Linked DNA regions of Homo sapiens. The protein of the gene in region 1 interacts with the protein of each later gene in a biochemical or structural test. Each region holds a gene or a part of one and is shown on either strand. Other genes may lie near its edges. The genes, in order: USP51, DGCR8 and CDK6.

Evidence for each region.
Region 2: the proteins of USP51 (region 1) and DGCR8 form a complex in vitro, tested with the Homo sapiens proteins (one study listed by BioGRID).
Region 3: the proteins of USP51 (region 1) and CDK6 form a complex in vitro, tested with the Homo sapiens proteins (one study listed by BioGRID).

What each region holds. Positions count from the first base shown.
Region 1 is NC_000023.11:55,486,754-55,494,041, reverse strand, and holds the start of USP51 (ubiquitin carboxyl-terminal hydrolase 51), read left to right. Parts: upstream 1-4,193; 5' UTR 4,194-4,266; exon of another isoform or gene 4,267-4,676; 5' UTR 4,677-4,873; intron 4,874-4,995; exon of another isoform or gene 4,996-5,053; 5' UTR 5,054-5,102; coding exon 5,103-7,238; 3' UTR 7,239-7,288.
Region 2 is NC_000022.11:20,104,184-20,111,318, forward strand, and holds part of DGCR8 (microprocessor complex subunit DGCR8), read left to right. Parts: intron 1-1,993; coding exon 1,994-2,094; intron 2,095-2,408; coding exon 2,409-2,515; intron 2,516-3,087; coding exon 3,088-3,215; intron 3,216-4,706; coding exon 4,707-4,820; intron 4,821-5,841; coding exon 5,842-5,925; 3' UTR 5,926-7,135.
Region 3 is NC_000007.14:92,616,470-92,623,604, reverse strand, and holds part of CDK6 (cyclin-dependent kinase 6), read left to right. Parts: intron 1-518; coding exon 519-569; intron 570-5,397; coding exon 5,398-5,533; intron 5,534-7,135. UniProt on the Homo sapiens protein: Serine/threonine-protein kinase involved in the control of the cell cycle and differentiation; promotes G1/S transition. Phosphorylates pRB/RB1 and NPM1.

The DNA.
Region 1 (7,288 bases):
TTATGATTTTGAAATAATGCTCTTTGTTTTTGTATCTCTCCTTCTTCATAAATAGGGCATACCAAAGTTTTGTGAGAAAAAAGAAAGAGAAAAGAGCACACGATATGCACTTAATAAATGGTCTGTAATTCTTTGGCCCACTAAGCAGGCAAAGTGCTCAGGGCATCGTAAAGCAAGCCTAGTCAGAGAGAGGTCTGTGCATGTGTGTGGGGAAAAGAGCTGCGCCTTTATTTTCACCCACCTCTAACTTACAGTGATCATGTCCTAAAACTATGAGCCTAGGCATGAAACTCCATTGATAGTAGTACTACATGTGACTGTGTCGCCAACAAAAATTTCGGTATCACATTACACTTCTTTCACATTTCTCAGAGTATCACCTATGCTCAGCACTACTTTGAAACTATGGTAGTTATTATACCCATCTTGTGATAGTTATGTAAGGTTTAATTAAAAAAAAAATTTCCTCACATCACAATATCTTTCTAAAAGTACAAAATGCCATCTCCATACAATGCATTTTTATAATCCCGTGTGTTTAGTTATATATATTTATGTTAAAAATATCATTGTCTTAAGGGATCCACCGGCTGTACCAGGATATCAAAGGGATCCAAGGCACCAAAAGGCTGAGGATCCCTACTGTGATGGTTAATATTAGGTGTCAACTTGATTGGACTGAATTGAAGGACGCCTAGATAGCTGATAAAGTATTGTTTCTGGGTGCATCTGTGAGGGTGTTGTCAGAGGAGACTGACGTTTGAGTCCGTGGACCGGGAGAGGAAGACTCATCCTCAATGTGGATGGGCACCATCCAATTGGCTGCCCGCACGGGTAAGGCAGGGCAGATGGAAGTAGGTGGGACAAGCTGGCTTGCTGAGTCTTCTGGCTTTCATCCTTCTCCCGTGCGGGATGCTTCCTTCTGTTCCTCCTGCCCTCGGACATCAGACTCCAGGTTCTTTAGCCTTTGGGCTCTTGGACTTACACCAGTGGTTTGCAGGCGGGCTCTTGGGCCTCGGGACACAGACTGAAGACTACACTGTTGGCTTCCCTACGTTTGAGGCTTTTGGACTCAGACTGAGTCACTACTGGCTGCTTTCTTCCCCAGCTTGCAGACGGCCTATCATGGGACTTCGCCTTGTGATCATTTGAGCCAATTCTCCCTGATAAACTCCTTTTCATATGTATACATATACGTGTGTGTGTGTGTGTGTGTGTGTGTGTGTGTGTGTGTGTGTGTGTAGGATACATATATCCTATTAGTTCTGTCCCTCTGGAGAACCCCAACTAAAACACCTACTCTAGGGGATGTTTTGAAATGAACATCCAAGGGCAAAGGGAAGGCAATGGACTGACAGGCCGCATGTTTTCACATATGTAATCTCATGTGCACGGACAATACAGAGGCTTCTGTGGTTGAAGTGCTGGAGCCCACAAAAGCAGAAAATGAAGCTGAGGTTGGACCTACTCAGGGGTGGGGGTGGGGGGGAGTTGGAGTAAGTTGGGCAGTTTCCATTTTAACCAAGAGACCACAGGGAGTCACCATGGGTCTGTGGGCAGGAGAGGGCACACTCCAGTGGTGTCTGAGGCTGTTGCTTCAGAAGGTTGGAGGCAGACCAGCTACGAGCTGGAGCACAGGAAGAAAAGGAACAGAAGAGGGGATCCATCCAGTGAGGGGACAGGGGCAGGAGGCTGGGCAGACAAATGTGGGCCCCAAAGGACTGGAACCCAGTCCATGGCACCCTCCCTGCAGCCCTAGTCAGGGGCAGGTAATGGCTCCAAGTCTGCCCTTTGGGATGCTGGCCTCTGAGAAGCGAGGTCATTGAGGGGAAGAGGCCCAGATTGGGAGAAAGAAGGCTGTGTGAGGCTTCAGGGGTCCAGTTTTCAAGGTACTGAGCGAGCCACCAGGAGCACAGAGGCAGGCTTTTTCCCAATCCTGCTCTTTCATACACCACCCCACTCCCAAAGGACCCTGCCACACCTGCCACAGCTAGAATCTGTAAGAGACGCCAACATAACACAGGCCTGGGAAACCAGCTCCATCAGACATGGCTCCTGCTACCAAGGCCAGAGTGCCTTGACCTGGGCTTCTTTACACATTATCCCACAGTAGTGGTTCTCAAAGTACCATCTCCACGCCAGCAGCATCCGCATCAGCTGGTACAGCGTTAGAAACCTAAATTATTGGGCCTCACCCAACCCACTGAACTGGGAACTTTGGGAGTGGGGTCTAGCAGTCTGTTAAGTCCACCAGAAGGTTAGACGCAGCTTCATTTTGGAGGAACCAGTGAACTCCAGAAAGGCCTAAACCATGCAGACCCATTCATTTTCATTTTGACAGTAGTGACCCATCACGCTGTCCTGAGGTTTTCCTACAGGACAATTGTCAATGAAGAAATCGTTTGTTTGGTCACGATAGCGTGTGGGCTGATTTAAAGGCGTGTCTAGCTCAATAACAACTGTTTTCAGAAACTTTTTGAAGCACTGTAACAATCCCACCTCCCAAATATTAAGTTGTTGATTACGAGTGGTTTTTAGGCCTTTATTAACTAACATTAATCTTCACAGCACATTCCTATGCATTTCCCGATGTGGACCTCAGGCAGGGACTCTGGCTTACTTGCTTTTGTGCCCAGTTTTGTTTGGCTGTATATTCATAGTGCCCAGTGCAGCAGTAGGTGCTCTTTACATATCTGCTGAATAAACCAATCTAGGTAGGGCTGGCATTCTCATGATTCTGATTTTGCACAGGAGAAAGCGAAGGCTCAGAAGACAGAAGTATTTATAAATTGTGCCCTGCCTCCCTGCCTGCATAAAGGGTGCAGGGCTGTCTCAGAGCAGCTGGGATCCAAGCCACAGGTGGCACAGCTAGCAAATGACTGACTCAGCATTTCCTTCTAGGGCTGCTAACCCAGAGTGGAGCAACTCTTTGCTTAGCTGTGGCTGAGAAAATGCCCTTCCCTAGGGGAGAAAAAGCACGTTTTCCTGCACAAGCCAGTCTATAATTCCAAAGCACTTTCCCTCCGGGTGCTAGTATGTGACTGAGATATGGTCGAATCTAAACCAAGTCACAAAATCAGTGATATCCATTGTGCGGAGGTATCCACTAGATGCCACTGCCAAGTTAAGAGAGCTGAATCCTAATCGTGAGGTTTTGAGGGGAGGTGTGTGACTTTCTCAGAGAGATTAAATGTAGCATTAAACATCCGCTGTAATAAACCGTAATTTTCTTGGGATTGGACCGGAAGGGCAACAAGCCCTGGAGATAGCTTTCCTCCGGGTTGTCGCCTTGGATGCCGGATCTGTCAAAGAAAAGGAAAAGTCTCCTGGCGTATGGACTTCAGGACACAAACAGTTGTATCTTGTGCTTCTCCCAGCACAATCTAGCGCTATAATGCACCTATGGCATCTTTGTTGAATACATGCTCCTGTATATGGACTGCCTAGGATGGATGATCGGGTGAACTGAGCCATAACTTTGAGAGAGCTTTGAAAGAGAAAGGCATTCTCTTCTCCTCTACTCTGCATCAGGAGTTGTTCTCTATGCTGATTTTCAGGAGCGGACTGAAAAAAGAGGTGTGACAGATAAAGCTCGCCAAAAAGGTCTTTTACTTGATATATACTATGACTCAGTGTTCACATTGGGCTAGGGTTATTATTTCAATTTCTCTTTAAAAATTGACACAACTAAGGCTCAGAGAAGTTAAGTGTTTTATCCGAGGTCACACAGCAAGCATGTGCCTGGGCTCAGGTCTCTCTGAGCCTGAGCCCTTGCTTATGCTTCCTCCCCTGCACATTCTGGGATAATCTCTCTCTCTTTCTCTCTCTCTCTCTCCCTCCCTCCCTCCGTCAACTCCCAGAGACCAGGCTCTGACAGGATCCTGAGGGATTCCTGCCAGAGGGTTGCCATCTCTGGAAGCCCCCACCCCCACGCCGGGTGAATCTTTTTTTCTGTGGAGTGCGGGCCTGGAGCTAGGTGAGGCCTGAGCCTCCATTTCAGGGGCTTTCTGTAGAATCTGTTGCTGCTGTTGCCTCCAGCAGAGTCTGTTTCAGGAAGAGGTTTGCCTGCCTGCGCGGGACAGCGGTGCCATTCATCACTGCAGGAGGGCAGAATCCGGGGTTGGGGGCCGCACGTCGAGAGGGGAGGGGCCAGGGGGCGGCCCCCTTGTGACCAGCCCTGAGGAGAGGTCAGGAGAGAAGGCTGGCTGAGGAGCGCCTGGACAGCAGCAGTTGCTGACGTTCTATATCACGCGCCTGGGGCCCAAGGTAACCCAGACCTTTAAACAAACTGCCGGGCTGGGGGTGTTGCGGGGGCAGGAGAGGGAAAAGGGAGCGGAGACTTCGGGGGTCGCGCGAGGATAGTGGTGGCCATAGAGGTGGCAAATGCGTGAAGGGAGGGAGTAGTAATCCGAATTCTAGGAGAAATCATAGGAATTGAAGTCGCAGAAGCAAGAAAAGGGGTGTGAGAGCACAAGCGCGAAAAAGCGTGAGAGGGCGCAAGAGCTGGGTGGACCGAAAGTGCGCTGAGGGGCAACGGCTTAGAGTGGAACACACCGGGTCACAGAAGTATAGGTTAGGTAGAAACAGAGGGACACTTTCTTCCTGTGAGTTCATTTTCCAAAAGTGCGTCCTTTCAGCCATTTTGGAGAGAAAATGTTGACCCAAGTGTTTTTTAGGATACAGGGAAAGAACGTCAGAGGAAGCTGCACCAAAGCGAGGCTGCGCAGGGCGCAAAAAAGCAGTCAGAGGGTGGCGCCTTTTTTAAAGAAGTTTCCATCCTTTCTGTCCTAAAGCTCAGGCCGTTCCCCACCCCCACCGCTCGCTAGCCTTCTGTTCCCAGTCCCCTGGCATGATCTGATCGCCTTTGAAGCAGGTAACCGCCTCGGTCTCCCCATCAGCTCCAGGGGCCTCTCAGTTGAGTGGGTGGAGCCGACAGAAGCCGCGGGCTGAGCTCAAGGGCCGATGGGAGGGGTCCTGGGGGCGCTAACTGCGCACCGCGGCCATGACGCTGGGCAGATCATTCACAGAAGTCTCTGTCTCCTTTCATCTACAGTCGCAGCTGTTTTCCAGACGCCTTGCTCCTCAGGTCGGGGAGTGATCTGATGGCCCAGGTTCGAGAAACTTCTTTGCCCTCCGGCTCTGGGGTCCGCTGGATCTCCGGAGGTGGGGGAGGAGCCTCTCCTGAGGAGGCGGTTGAGAAGGCGGGGAAAATGGAGGAGGCGGCGGCGGGGGCTACGAAGGCGTCTTCGAGACGTGAAGCCGAGGAGATGAAGCTGGAGCCATTACAAGAGCGTGAGCCCGCGCCGGAGGAGAACTTGACGTGGAGCAGCAGCGGCGGCGACGAGAAGGTGCTCCCTTCAATCCCCCTTCGCTGTCACAGCAGCTCCTCGCCCGTTTGCCCGCGCCGCAAGCCCCGCCCTCGGCCCCAGCCCCGGGCCCGCTCCCGCAGCCAGCCTGGGCTCTCGGCCCCACCCCCGCCTCCAGCCCGGCCCCCGCCCCCGCCGCCACCCCCGCCCCCACCCGCACCGCGGCCCAGGGCCTGGCGTGGATCCCGGCGCAGATCCCGGCCTGGGTCCAGGCCTCAGACACGGAGAAGCTGCTCTGGTGACCTAGACGGGTCGGGGGATCCTGGCGGCTTAGGGGACTGGTTGCTGGAGGTCGAGTTTGGTCAGGGTCCCACAGGCTGCTCTCATGTGGAGAGCTTTAAAGTAGGTAAGAACTGGCAGAAGAACCTGAGGTTGATCTACCAGCGTTTCGTTTGGAGTGGGACCCCAGAGACTAGGAAACGTAAAGCAAAGTCATGCATCTGTCACGTATGTAGTACCCATATGAACAGACTCCACTCTTGTCTCTCCTGTGTCTTTTTTGGCTGCTTCACTGAGAAACATATTCACAAACATGCAGAAACAAAGCAGCACCATTTAGCTGTAGACCTTTATCATGGGGTCATATATTGCTTCATGTGTAAGGATTATGTATATGACAAAGACATAGAACAGATTGCCAAAGAAACAAAAGAAAAAATTTTGAGATTATTAACTTCCACCTCAACAGATGTTTCTCATCAACAGTTTATGACATCAGGGTTTGAAGACAAGCAATCAACCTGTGAGACAAAGGAACAGGAGCCAAAATTGGTGAAACCCAAGAAAAAGAGAAGAAAAAAGTCAGTCTATACTGTAGGCCTGAGAGGGCTAATCAATCTTGGGAACACTTGTTTTATGAATTGTATTGTCCAGGCACTTACCCATATTCCTCTACTGAAAGATTTCTTCCTCTCTGACAAGCACAAATGTATAATGACAAGCCCCAGCTTGTGTCTGGTCTGTGAAATGTCTTCGCTTTTTCATGCTATGTACTCTGGGAGCCGAACTCCTCACATTCCCTATAAGTTACTGCATCTGATATGGATCCATGCAGAACATTTAGCAGGGTACAGGCAGCAGGATGCCCATGAGTTCCTTATTGCAATATTAGACGTGCTACATAGACACAGCAAAGATGATAGTGGTGGGCAGGAGGCCAATAACCCCAACTGCTGTAACTGCATCATAGACCAAATCTTTACAGGTGGCCTGCAATCAGATGTCACATGTCAAGCCTGCCATAGTGTTTCTACCACCATAGACCCATGCTGGGACATCAGTTTGGACTTGCCTGGCTCTTGTGCCACATTCGATTCCCAGAACCCAGAGAGGGCTGACAGCACAGTGAGCAGGGATGACCACATACCAGGAATCCCCTCACTTACAGACTGTCTACAGTGGTTTACAAGGCCAGAGCACCTAGGAAGCAGTGCCAAAATCAAATGCAATAGTTGCCAAAGCTACCAGGAGTCTACTAAACAGCTCACAATGAAAAAATTACCCATTGTGGCTTGTTTTCATCTCAAGCGGTTTGAGCATGTAGGCAAACAGAGGCGAAAGATTAATACCTTTATCTCCTTTCCCTTGGAGCTGGACATGACTCCGTTTTTGGCCTCTACTAAAGAGAGCAGAATGAAAGAAGGCCAGCCACCAACAGATTGTGTGCCCAATGAGAATAAGTATTCCTTGTTTGCAGTGATTAATCACCATGGAACTTTGGAAAGTGGCCACTATACCAGCTTCATCCGGCAACAAAAGGACCAGTGGTTCAGCTGTGATGATGCCATCATCACCAAGGCTACCATTGAGGACTTACTCTACAGTGAAGGGTATTTACTGTTCTATCACAAACAGGGTCTAGAGAAAGACTAGTCTTACCAGACCACTTACTGAAAAAAAAGTAAATGATTAGGCAAGGATTT
Region 2 (7,135 bases), on another chromosome or scaffold:
GTCTCGCTCTGTCGCCCAGGCCGGACTGCGGACTGCAGTGGCGCAATCTTGGCTCACTGCAAGCTCTGCTTCCCGGGTTCACGCCATTCTCCTGCCTCAGCCTCCCGAGTAGCTGGGACTACAGGCGCCTGCCACCGCGCCCGGCTAATTTTTTTTTGTATTTTTAGTAGAGACGGGGTTTCACCTTGTTAGCCAGGATGGTCTCGATCTCCTGACCTCGTGATCCACCCGCCTCGGCCTCCCAAAGTGCTGGGATTACAGGCGTGAGCCACCGCGCCCGGCTGGCGTCGGTCTTTTGCCAGAAACTTCTGAGCGTGCTCTCTAGCTGTGTGTGTGTCAGCCACTGCCTCAGCTTCTCCAGGGCCAGTCCCGAAGCCGTGGGGTATGTGGGTTCTTGTGGGCCGACAGCACTGGACGTTGCTAATTGGTTGGCTGGTTGACAAACCCTTGAGGTTCCAGGGCCTGATGTCTTGGTGAGTGACCTTCCCTGGAAAAAGACCCATGTTGATTTGTGCACTTGAGAGGAGCAGTGTCTTCTGGGGACCTATTTGAAGACAGTAGCCAAGCCATACCTCGAGGATTTTTCGCTTGCCAACCTCAGGGCTAGTGCCTTCCTCTTCTATGCAGTTGCAGCGAGTTGGCCTTGCTGCTTGCTGGAGCGGCGAGGGCAGAGGAGCTGCCCACTGCCCTGTCTGTAGGGCCAGTGTCCCTGTGGAGCGGGCTTGGCACACTGTGGAGCCTGCACAGCGAGGCGTGTGAATCATTTGATTCTAGGTTTCCTCGCTGCCCATGGGCCAGGCAGGCTCCAGGTCCCTGCAGACCCCTCCAGAACAGGGCCAGTGGGGGAAGCACTGTGAGGGTGTGGCTGATGGGTAATCTCCAGTGCTTCAAAGTGTGGTCTTTTTTGGAAAGAGGATGATTGCAGATAGAATTAGGTTAACATGAGATCACACTGAAGCAGAGCAGTGGTGTGATCCAGTGTGTCTGGTGTTTCTCTAAGAAGAGGGAGGAGGGGCAGGGCTAGTAGTCCATATGAAAATCGGAGCAATGCTGCCATAGCCAAGGGATGCCGGGGCCACCAGGAGCTGGCAGAGGCTCCCTAGAGGCTTCTGAAAGAGGATGGCCCTGCTGAGGCCTTGATTTCAGACTTCAGAATGGTGAGAGAATAAACCTCTTGTTCTAAGCCACTGACTTTGTGGTATGTTGTCACAGGAGCTCCACCAGGGAGGTTGTCCATGCTCCAGAGTGGGCTGGATAGCATCTTCCTTTCACCCAGGAGGCACTCTCAGCTTCAGCCAAAGTCCTAGTCTGGGAAGGCACAGTGGGCAATGTCTCTGCACCTCAGCCTGCTGCAGCTTCCCTATGCCTCACTGTGTGGAATCTCCCCATCACCTCTTGTTTCCCTGTCTGCCTCTCTTGTCCTTCCTGTGTGTTCTTGGGTTGGCTGCAGAGCCAGGGTGATGACACTGTTGGAAGCCTTGCTGGGCTGGGCCTCTGCTGGCCACCTGGGGCTGGGCTCTGTGTAGCTGTGTGGGGCTTTGGCCTTTGGGGAGCTGGGCCTTTTAAGGCCAGCTTTTGGGTCTGGCTGACTTTCCCTCTCCTGTAGTCTCAGTTGTGGCAATAGTAAAGCCTCTCTGCAAAGGTGCTTTATCTTTATAGAGTTCTGAGAAGGGTGCCTTATGGATCAGAATCAGATCCAAATAAGGTGGGCCTGGCCAGCCAGCCATGTACCTGGGGCCCTCTTAGGATACCAGACTCCATCCCACAGTGCTCAGGGTGGAAGGGTGCTGTGGGCTCTGGAGATGGGCAACTGGACGGTGAGGTACGGAGCATGTCTTGTACCCGGTGGGTTCCTTGCAGAGTTGAGGTATGAAGTGCTAGGCGAGCTCACAAGAACAGACATTAAGCATCTGGGGAAAGCCAACCGCAGGCCCAGCCATGAAGAGGCCGGTGGGCCTGGTGGGGACTCACAAGCCTCTGCTTTGTGTTGTAGTATTTTAACCACATCAGCATCGAGGACTCGCGGGTCTACGAGCTGACCAGCAAGGCTGGGCTGTTGTCTCCATATCAGATCCTCCACGAGTGCCTTAAAAGGTAGGGTAGGGGGGTGCCTCCCCCCATGAGTCAGGTCGGGGGAGCTCCTCTCTGGCGTCTCATATTCTTGTGGCTGTTTGTCCCAAGGCAGAGGCATGGCCAGGTTTCCCTGGGTACACAGCAGCCCCTTGGCCCTGGCCACCAGTCAGTCCCACAGGCCTGAATCGGGCGTGTGGAGAATTCCCTCCTCTGGCTGAGATGCAGTCTGGGGAGAGGCTTGGTCATTTCCTAAGGGCTTCCCAGAGCAGGCCTCCTCAGAGGCAGCTGGCTGCTCTGCTCAGGGGACGCCATCTGTTGTCTGTTTTCTCTTAAAGAAACCATGGGATGGGTGACACGTCTATCAAGTTTGAAGTGGTTCCTGGGAAAAACCAGAAGAGTGAATACGTCATGGCGTGTGGCAAGCACACAGTGCGCGGGTGGTGTAAGGACTCCTTCTCTGCTGCCTGGTGGCCGCTGGGCGGGCGGCCCCTGGTGTGGCCCTGCGCCTCTGTGGCTTGGTCTCAGCTGTTGCCCTGGCATTGTCCCTGAGCCCAGCTGTGTGTGCTGGCCACCACACGTTCAGCCTAAGGCGGACTGGCAGCCGTCCTGCCTGCACTTTCCCTGTCTTTTCCCTTTCCCCCGCTGTCACCCCTGTCTCCGTCCAGCCCTTGTCCCTGTGGCAGGAGGAAAGGCCCTCCTCCTCGAACAGCCAGCAGAATCCTGCTGCTCCCTGTTTCTGGAGGTGTGCGTCTTGGCGGGAGGGAGGCTCTCGGCTGCGTGGCTTTGAGTGGTAGTGTCCTCAGCTCCTAGACTCTGAGGGCCACTCTCTCAAGGTGGCAGCTGGGTACTGTGAGACTCAGGTGCCCAGAGCAGTGGCAGAGTGCTGCCTATTCCTGTAGAATGTGCCCTGGCTGGCCCTCGGGGTGTGGGTCAGGAGGGCTGGGAGCGGCAGGGGGCCCCATGAGCACTGGGTGTTTGTGACCCCCTCTCCATGCTTGCTCTTTCTCTGTGTAGGTAAGAACAAGAGAGTTGGAAAGCAGTTAGCCTCACAGAAGATCCTTCAGCTGCTGCACCCACATGTCAAGAACTGGGGGTCTTTACTGCGCATGTATGGCCGTGAGAGCAGCAAGATGGTCAAGCAGGTAACTGGCCATCAGCAGGTCCCAGGGCAGCCTGTGCTGCCACCCTGGAGCGTATTCCTGAGGCTCTGTGCTCAGAGGGGGCAGAGCTGGGCAGCTCTGCTGTTGCTCACAGCTGCCTCTCTCCTGGGCCACTTGTGTGGCTTTGTGGGCAGGGGTGGGGTCGTCCCAGCTACATCTCCTATCCCAGCCTGCTGGGCATGGTCAGTGAAGTGTGGGTGATTGGGAACGCAGGCTGGGCCCAGCTATGTGGCTTGTAGGGAGATGGCCAAAGTGCAAGGCAGGGCCAGGCAGGAGATGCTGAAGGTGCGCCCGGCTCGGAGGTGTGCAAAGGCTCAGGAGCCAGGGCCAGCTCTCCCTGCTTGAAGGAGAGCGAGTGTGTCAGGGTAGCTCTCCCTGGTACCAGTGCCGGTCCATCTCTAACAGAAGAGCATATGTGTACCATCTGTCTTGTTTCTGCTGTTGTGGCCAACATCCTGCAGTGTAAGCCAGTGCCCACTCCTGAGGGGTGGAGGGTAACATGGGGAGGTGAGTGTAATCATTTTCCTCAAATGATTACAGAAACTCTCTGGGTTCTTGCCCTCCTGGTCATTGGAAGGGGAAGTAGTTGTGGAGGGGTTAGGCCTGCAGGTGGGGCAGCCCTAGGACTGTGTGGTGGGTGGGCCCTCTGCCCAAGCCAGCTGCCAAGAGCAGGGCCTGCCTTTAGGTCCCTGAGACCGAGGCCTCGGCACTGTCCCCGAAGAGGCCTTTACTCTGGACATGATAAGGGAGGGTGAGGGGGCTCACACGGGCCACCAGGGCATGTTAAGGAACTTGAGAGAGATTTTTGGGAAGCAAGTTGAAATGTAGGTAGCACTTGCTTCTGCCCTTGCTGTGCATGGTCCTTGGCTGTGACGGAGGGAGAGAAGGCAAGCCCCACTCTGGCCCGGGGGTGGGAAACTTCCCTGAGCAGGAGGGGGAAAGGTCCCAGCCAGGCACAGCCACAGCTTGGGGGAGCTCTGGCATCCCGAGGAACCACAGCACCCTTGGGGCTGGCCTAAGACGGGAAGGGGCTGAGGCCAGCCTGATGCTGCTCTGCATTCATGGAGTGTGCAGAGAGCTCAGTGCCTGAGGCTGATGGGCTGGGCTGCAGCGTGCTGTTCTTACTGGCTATGGCCACACTCTGGTTTCACTCCTTGATGAGGACTCTGGGCACCACGAGCACCTCACCTCCCTACTCTGCCCATGGCAGGAGGCCATATAAGTGGCGTGGTGTGGGCAGAAAGGCCTGGCAGCTATGGACTGCCCCTCGCTCTCTGCTGCTGTCAGTGGGCCTGGCATCACTGAGGCGGGCCAGTCAGCATGCAGTTATGTTGCCACAGCTCCTGGCTGTTTCGTGTCTGCCAGACCCTGGGCGCGCCTGCCTTCAGGGTCCCAGGCACACAGCTGCTGGGCAGCGGGCAGGCCGTAGAGCTACAGCCTGCAGTCCTGAGCGTGAGGTGCTATACTTCCCAGGAGACATCGGACAAGAGTGTGATTGAGCTGCAGCAGTATGCCAAGAAGAACAAGCCCAACCTGCACATCCTCAGCAAGCTCCAAGAGGAGATGAAGAGGCTAGCTGAGGAAAGGGTGAGTGCCACCCTAGCGGGAGGGCTGCCGGGCCACGGCCATTCCTGTGGCACCTGTGGAGGGACAGCAGACCCCAGGACCCGTGCCTGAGCTGACACCTTGGAAATGCTTGGATCCTCCTTCCAAAATCAGATACAGGCTTTTCTTTGAGCTTCGACATGTGTGATAGTTTTATAAATCACTTCAGTTTTGGTTCTGTTGTTAGAGAGCTGGCAGGCCAGCCTGTTGGTGGACCATGAAGGTCACAGTCTTGGTGGGCCACCTGAGTCCCATGTCCTCCCTGGGTGTTTGGAGGTAGGTCAGTGCACCTGCCAGGGTTGAATCTGTAGGGCTTGGTCCTGATGAAGCCTCCTAAAGCCACCTTGGGAACCCCACTCAAAGAGGGGCCTGTCAGGCTGGCAGTGGTGTCTTCTGTCTTCAGGCATCGTCTGCCTGGCCACGGCGTGACCTGCCCACCTGGGCCTTCTGGGTGGGAGCTTTCTTAAGTGTGGCAGTCCCCTGGCCTGGGTGAGAGCCCCAGGAGGTATCTGCTGCCGCCCAGGCCAGCAGGTCCCTTGCTGCTCCCTGGGGTGGGGCTTGGCCTCCTGGAGCCAGTGGGACTGCCTGGTTTGCCCCTGGTCGGAAGAGGGGCTGTGGGGCTCAAGGGCAGCAGGTGCAGGACATAGTGCTCCTGGCTGGGCCTGGGGCAAGCAAAAGCTGGGCAAGGGAGGAACACCCAATGGGGAGGCCTGGCCTGTCCCTGTAACTGCACCCAAAATTCTTCACTTCTTGGTACATGTCCTGATTGCCAGGGAGGCTGCACATGTTGTACTCTGATGGCAATGCAGGGGGCCTCTGCAATCTCAGGCTGGCCTGCCCCAGGCCTTCCCTGCTCCTCCTAGCCTGGCATCACAAGCACTGGTGCCGTTGGGGCTCCAGGGCCTCCTGGCATGATCTGCTGGGCTCTCCCTCCACCTTGTGTCTTCCCGAGCCTCTGCCAAGCCCACCTCACTGGTACCCCTGACCTTTGTTGTTCTTTCAGGAGGAGACTCGAAAGAAGCCCAAGATGTCCATTGTGGCGTCCGCCCAGCCTGGCGGTGAGCCCCTGTGCACCGTGGACGTGTGAGGGAGGTGGCACGGGCCAGGGCGCGGGGGCCGCCAGCCGCACTTCTGAGGAGACCAGCAGTCATGCATCGTGCACCACAGTGTCAGGCCTCCAACCCACGCTCCTTCCCTGTGGCCAACCTGTGGGCCCGGCCTTAGGGTGGAGGCTTTAGTGTACAGGGACAGCCATGGCCACACAGCACACATGTGGAGCAGCGGCTCTCCCTGGAAAGCTCCAGGCCTGAATGGATGGACTCAGCGACTGCACCAGTGGCAGCTGGTGACTGTGGACAGTGGTGGACCCTGCTTCTGTGCACCTGCTGCAGGCTCTTTTTATGAAGGCTTTCATGAATTTTAGTATGTAATACGCACTGACGACACATGATGCTTGGATGACAGATGAGAGGGGATGGCTGAGTCCTGTGGCTGGCCCGTGATGCCAGGTGGCCCATGTGCCCAGGGCGCCTGCAGGGCTGCTACAGGGACCTGGTCAGGAGGTGCACATGGTGCCCTGCCCTCACCCACCCTCTGTGTTTCCCCTTCTTTGAAAAGGTAGAAGAGAAAGGAATATTTTAAACCTTTTTGGCTTAAACAGAATTTTAGCATCAGAACTAGCTTTCTGGGATTGGAGGCAAACCATCAAGGTGGTCCCTCTCCAGTCTGGACACGATGCCAGCAAGGATGACGTCCTGCCACCTCCTGGAGTTACCCTGGCCTCCTAGGGTCCCTTTTTCTGATGAAGTCTTAATTCCCTAAAAGCGCCTCTTTGGACACTGAGGCCCTCTCTGCCTTTCCTGGCCTCCGGCAACAGTTTTTTACAAAGATTTTTTGCAGTCGAGTCCATATGTCCACCCATTGATTTTTAAAGCTTTTGTGATATTTTAGCATTTTGAAAGACTTTCACAGTGAGAGTAGAAGGTAGATTTGGAATCATGCATTTTAGCAAGTGGACTTGTTGAAACAGGAAGCAAGGGCCTTCAGTGTAGCCCATTCTTGATCCAGAGCTGTTGCCTGTGACAGCGGTTTCTCTGGATGTCAAAGGCAGCTGCCTGGTGCCCAGCTTGCTTCTCGACTGGTGGCCCCTATGGGTGGGTGTGCGATGGAAATGTGTTCCTGCCGGAGTCTGAGGCACCAGGGTGTGCTCAAAGGCTGGCCCTGGTGGTGGACTGGCACCTGTGCAGAGTGCCGTGTGCTTGTGGTGCGCCATCTGAAGCAAGAGTCCAGCGTTCTGC
Region 3 (7,135 bases), on another chromosome or scaffold:
AATATTGGGAGGAAGAAAAGTGGTATAATTAGAAAAATAGACCCAGAGGTGGTTCACTGCAGCATTGAGGACAAATGAAAGGAGAGAGACCCATGAGGAAGTACTCTGATAGCAGAGTAGTATGGAAAAAGTGCTCTGAGAAATATCAAAGAATCTCACCTATTTATGGTTCGAGACTAGGATGGTGGTATGTTCCACCTTATCACGAAGTTAAGCAGATCTTTGAAACCTGGAACTGAATTTGACGGTAGCACTGTTGTAAGAATGACTGCAAACAGAATGCCCGTGATTGTAAAACATGGAATTCATCTACCACCAGGTATTCATGAGAGATCCTAACCCATACATGAAATGCAGGGAAAACCTTCACTTACCAAAGGAAAAATGTCTCAATTTTTTTTACTTCTTCCCAACCCATAAAGAATATTTTGCTTCCTGTGAAACAATGATAATGGCAAATATGATTGAAATGTAATCTGAGAACATTTCTTATTTAAAATGTATCTTTATTCTTTTAGGCCTCTTTTTCGTGGAAGTTCAGATGTTGATCAACTAGGAAAAATCTTGGAGTAAGTAATAATTATAATTTTACACCAGTGTCCATAGCATTAAAACATTTACAGTGACTTTCCTCTGACATGCATATCATGTGTTTATCTCTTGTCTTTCTTACTTCAAGCAGCTGCTGCAGACAGTGTTACTATTTGTGTGGTGAGTGGAGACATGGTAGAAGTGCCGTTTTATGCAGAGCCCTAACTGCTCTGCTCTGGAAGCTTGTATGTTGCTTGTGTGGATCTTTTTGCTGCTCCTCTTTCTTCGTGTGGCTGAGCTCCAGTTCTTTTAGTTCAAATACATTTTCTGCTTGTGGTCATTTCAAAAGCACCCACCATCAGAGATGGGATGCCTGGTGACCAAGTACCCATCCTTGTCCAGTGAGCTTCCTGTCCCCACTGAGTATCCTTGGTCACCCAGGTTGGTTCTGCGTTGTTTTGTTTTGTTTTCCTGGGCGAAGGATGGTATGCTACACATCTCATTTTTCTTTGGAGCACCAAAATAGAAAATGAGAACCCTAAGTCTTTGGCAAAATAACTCTGCAACTTTGAGAAAGTCATTTAAAACACCTCGTGAAGGGCTTACACAGTGCCTGGCACATAGTAAGCACTTTAAAAAGTTATCTATTACTGTTACTATTAGAGTTCATCATTAATTATTTAACCTTTTATTTCCTTAACTTCATCTGAGAAATGAAACTCTGACTTAAATTCTCTATAAGATCCTTTCTTGTGCTCAAATTCTTTGGTTTCAGTTACATCGCTCCTTGATGATTTACATAGTTTCATTCATGTCTGCATGTTCATGCATGTATGCATTCATGTTTCTAGAATGTAACTGGGGCACTTCTTCTGACAAAGCATGCAGTGTGGCATCCTTTTTTGGTTTTTTGTGTTTGAAAGGCCCATCCAAATTGGAGTGGAGTAGGAAAAAAGTGGGAGTTCTAGACCAAAAATAGCCCTGATCTTTGGTCTGTGACATTTTATAGGAATCCCAGTGATTTTTATGAAATTCGAAGTCTGTAAGACTGAAAAAAAAAAAAAAACCACCCCTAAAGAACAGATTTTCATATCAGCACTGTCTACTCAAGCGTGACTGCTTAAAACAGTTAATAAAACTGGAACCTGATTTTGTTCTTTTAGTGACTAGAAGCAGCTAGACTTCTGTTAATGCCAGTGCTACTGCTGAGTCAGAACATAGTAGCTTTAAGGCCTGAATAACATTTGCTAGTTTTTTATGCCTGGGGGCTTCCTGGGTCCAGGGCAGGTGATGCTACTGCTCCTACTACTGACCACTCTGTACAGTGGATAAATTCAACACAAAGCCTTCATGTTACCCCTGCTTCTGAATGGCAAGTTATTTAATCACTCGATGAACTCCCATCTATTTTTCCCCATGACTGTTGAATATATTTTGTGTGCATGTGATCATAAAGAGGAAACTAGGGAAAGCAGACATACTGATGACCTTCTGTTAAAAGGAAAGAGAATCTTGACTAAAGTCAGCTTGCCAGGACTTGAAAGCCATCACCTTCTTTCCCTTATTTATACTACCTGACAGTTGTGTCTACCTCCAGCACTGATGTCTGCAATCTTGTTAACATTGTTAGTGCCCCCTTAGTACATGAGGCCAGTGAAATGGACCAGAAGGAACATTTGACCGGCATGTTTGACCTGCTTCCAAAGAAAAGCCAGTTCTGCTTTTGGCAAAGTCCTGACAATCGTAGGTTGCCAACAGCAAAGAAGCTGTAGAGTTCTATGGTTTGTGCCTTTAGATTTTACTTTGTGGTTTCTGGCATTGTGTCATCAAAATTATGTTCTGTTTCCTCTGAATGCATTACCTTGCCAGAGAAAAGGGACAATGCTGCACCCTAGCGTCACTGCTGAAGTACTTGAAAAAATATTTCTGTCTCCTCCATCACTGCCATTTATAGATTTTGTGCCCTGTTGGGCTTGCCAATATAAATGTCAACTTTTAAGGCTTATATTCAGCAGTCCAAATAGTGGAATTAAGTGCAAGCATTTTTAATGGACCTATCAGAATTTCACAACACATATTTGGGCCATAAAAGTTCATTCTGGACATGAAACCAAATTTTTTTTAAGGAAAGCCATATTCACATACTCTTTTTTATTTTTTTCTTTGGAGACAAGGTCTTGCCCTGTTGTCCAGGCTGGAGTACAGTGGTGCGATCTTGGCTCACTGAAGCCTTGGCCTTCCGAGCTCAAGTAATCCTCCTATCTAAGCCTCCCAAGTAGCTGGGACTACAGGCACAGGGCACCACAACCAGCTAATTTTTATATTTTTTATAGAGATGGAGTTTCACCATGTTGCCCAGGCTGGTCTTGAACTCCTGGGGTCAAGTGGTCCACTTGCCTCGGCCTTCCAAACTGCTGGGATTACAGCCACCCCACCTGGTCCATGTTCACATACTCTTAAAGGGAAAAACATTTCTGTGTTTAGGAAGATTTAAGCCTTCAAGTAATAGCAAGTATTAAAAGTGAAACAATAGTTTTAGCCTGTGACATCTTAGAGCATTTTTAAGAATGATGTCATAGCTAAATGGAAATAAAATATTGGAATAGAGAGAACGGAACTCACTCTGGACTCTGTGACTGAGCTTGCTATCTGTGACTTTGGCAGTTCATTTTATTCCTCATTCTCAATTTCCCCATCTATAAAATGAGACTAATAACACCTGACTTACATGTCTTAGGAAATTATTACAGGAATCAGAGGAGGTGATAGACTTAAAGTTTTATATATATAGTTATGTGTTTGTTTAAAATTTTATATAAAATTATATAAAGTTATTTGTATATGTACACACATACAAACAGAGATGTGCTGTTCCTCTGAAGGCTTTTGGCATTCAGTTGATCATATACTTGCAAGATGTAATTAGATGTAGATACATTCAAAGCCACAAATAAAAAAGATTTTAAATATTTCTAGGAGTTATTAATATAATCAATTTCTAGCTGACTGGTGAATATACACAAAAATATTGATACACATAGACCTGACAACTAAAAAGGAATGAAAGGAAATTTTTAAAGCTCTCTAACAAGCATTTTTCATTCCCTCCTCTGCCCTGTCCCATTGTATCCAGACACTTACACGTGCATTTCTTTTCATAATTAATAGTGGTATTTTTGGTTTTTTTCTTTTTACTTCTATTGTAGGCTGTACTATTGAACAAATCTATATATTGCTCATTGTCATTTCTATTTATTGCTTCTAGTAAATATGTCCATGAATCTGTCTTTGCCTCAATAATGTAGCTCTCTCAGTATGCCTGATAGAGGCCGAATTACAGTGTCTTCCCCAGACACCCAGGCAGAGAAGCCATGATGACAGGGTTATCTTCCCAGCTGAAGTCTATGGCCTGGGCTCCGTGTAGGTGAGGGAAGGGGAAATGAAGTGCTACAGATCTTGAGACCTGTACCACATCTTCCTGAAATCTGGAAGTACATTCATAAGAACACCTCTTCCTGGGCCTTAGTCCCAACAAGTAGAGGCCAAGCAGAAGACCCTAATGTGGGCCAGCACAATTTCTAACTGTAGTTAAAATTATTTGTTCCAGTATTTGAATAGCTATGTACCCCGTCCACTAAACTATGATTTTATTTTTGGTTCAGAGTTATACAGTCTGTGTGAGAAAGAAGTCCCTGCATCCTCTGATTTTCTCTGTTCAAACCTACTTACGACCTATATGTAAACTATAAATAATATCTATACAATGTATAAGTTATGTAAGTCCATTGACCCATTAATTTTTTAAAGAATCTTAAGTTATACATAGATACAAGCAGTTCATATTTTAAGTGTGGTAGTGATGTATTTCCTATGCATCTTGTATTAATAACATTTTCTAATTATAATAATAGTAGGCAGTGTATTGATTGATAATTGACTGTGTGTGATGTATATCAGGTGCTGTGCTTTGTACTTTAAATTATAAATTTATATATTACTATAAATTCAAATAAAGTATAACTGATCCTCATTACAACTGTAAGTTATTATCATTGTATACATAAAGACACTAAGGGTCATAGATGTTAAGTAATTTGTCCTTACCTGCCAGTAAGTGGCAGGTGCAGGATTTGAACCCAAATCTGCCTATTTCCGAAGCCTGTGCTTATCACTTGCTGTTCTTTCCACATTTCTGATCCCAGAATGGTTTTCAGGGGAAATATAAATAATAGTCTTTTAATTTACTGTTTGCTCACTTTGGAATACCACAGACTTCCTTTTATAAAATCATGTTTGTATAATGCAGGACTAGCACGTTTTAGCCTCATTTTTCCTTCTGATTCTAATGTATATATTTAATATGTAGGGAATTGCTCTTTAACCAAAAATGCAACCAAATTGATATGTTAATAAACCATGTTGGATGAGCATCATAAAATCATGTCAATACTGGGGTGTTCGATCAAAACACAAAAAGCATTCTTGGACATAAAGGAAGATATGTACCAGTATGGGTCTCCTCTGAATACAATAAGTCCTGCTTTGTCACTAAGTCAGAGCTTACTGCCTGGTAATATATTTTCTATTTCTACATCATCCCTTACATTTAGTGTCTGCTACCAGAGCAATCTCTTATCTCCTCCCACTGAATTTTACAATTCTTCTGTGAGATTACCCTCTCCCCCATGGCCACCATATTGCAGTAGGACAGAGATAAACAGAGACCCTGCCAGTGATAAAGTGAAGGTCTCCTGGGACTCTGCCCCCCATGTCTCCCCCTTAGATTTTGCCTTTCTCTGGAAATTGATGAGAAAACAGCTTCTGCATAGTAGCTAATGCTTATGTCCATGTGTGGTTCTTTTGTAGCGTGATTGGACTCCCAGGAGAAGAAGACTGGCCTAGAGATGTTGCCCTTCCCAGGCAGGCTTTTCATTCAAAATCTGCCCAACCAATTGAGAAGTTTGTAACAGATATCGATGAACTAGGCAAAGACCTACTTCTGGTAAGTTTTTCTGATGTCAAGCTCGTCTGCACTGTGCCAGTGAGACACCTGCTCTACCCAGACTGGGTGGTGGGCACAAATATCAGTTCAGTAGCTGCTATAGGCATCACATGCCACAGCCACATGGAGCAGGAGGCAACAGTCCCTCCAGAGGTTTCATTTTCACACTTGTAGCAGCTGGTGGCTTTTGATTCTGGAATGTCTTTCTGATCCACATTTTTTTAAATCTGCCATCTTTGAATGTTTATTTCAATGCAGGTTTAGAAGCCTCTCGATTCACTTTGACATATGTTTCTTTAGAAGTAAATATTATGTTTCCTTTCTTACAGTTTCATGCTACTTTAAGTAATTTGTTTGTCATTTTAACGTGCCTTTTCTTAAACATTCACAACTTTGGGGAGATGTTTTTCCAAAAGAACTATATAGCAATACTTCTTCTAGTTGCTGATTTATTTAATAAGTATTTAGTGTGCCAGGGACATATAAAATACCTCACTGAAAATAAGGACTTCTGTGCTCTGAGACTCTTAATGCTCAACCATATACATAATTTCCTATACTTGGAGGCCAGAACAATAGGTAGAAAAGTGTACCTGTTGGGCTGTTCTTGATGTCTGAAACCCAGTGAGTAATGAGTGTCTGCTTTACCTCCTGAATTAACAGCCTTTGATATCTGCTTCTGCCCGTGGGTGAAGCACAGGTCTTCTCCATGTGTCTCATGCTGGGGCCCATGCCAGAGAGGCAGCAGCTCCCTGGGGCATGTTTTTCTCATGATAGAAGGTATCGATGCTCCAGAAGGGCAAGCAGAAATATGCAATGCCCCTGAAGGTCCATACTTGGAAGAAGTACCCGCCACTCTGCCCATGTTCCATTGGCCAAAGCAAGTTCCATGCCTAAGGCCAACTTGAATGGAGGAAAGAATGCTCCCCCTATGGTGAGAGGGGAGAGAAAAGAGGGAATATGTACTAAAAGTTATCCAATCTACCATAGTATCCAACTCTTGACTAAGTTGTGATTCCAAAAGCTCATTTTATAAGTAAACTATTTGGCAATTAAACTAAATTTTCTTGCAGAAACAATATTATTAACACAAAGTTTTTTAATTAACCCTCAACCTGGCAACCTTGTTCCTGAAGTAGAGCAATAATAGAACTTAAACACCTTTTTTTTAACCATATTTCTATAGGACAAAATGTATTAAGACTTCCAACGTGAGATTCTCCCACACCCCCACATTTGGCTAAGGTGTTCTCCTTCTCTCCACCCTCTTCCCAGCTTTAAGCCATCAGTGTAGCTGTGAGGAAAGGGCTTCCTCTCACATAATCCTCTAGAGACATGTCTCTGTATTGTGAATGTATTCCCACAGCTCTTTTCTCTTCTTTCCTATGTCCTGGAGATTAAATGCCACTACCTAATTTTCTCCTTCTTGGGCTCTGGGAAAAGAGAACTCAGGCTCAGGAATTTTGCCCCTGCTTTCCGGTCCTTTGGGAATTCAGCCCTTGCAAAGCTTTTCTAGAGATGTTTCTTGCTGTTAGAGACAGTTGGAACCTTTCTACAGACAAGCTCTTTCTTCCACTTGCCCTTTAGCTCTTGATGTTCAGA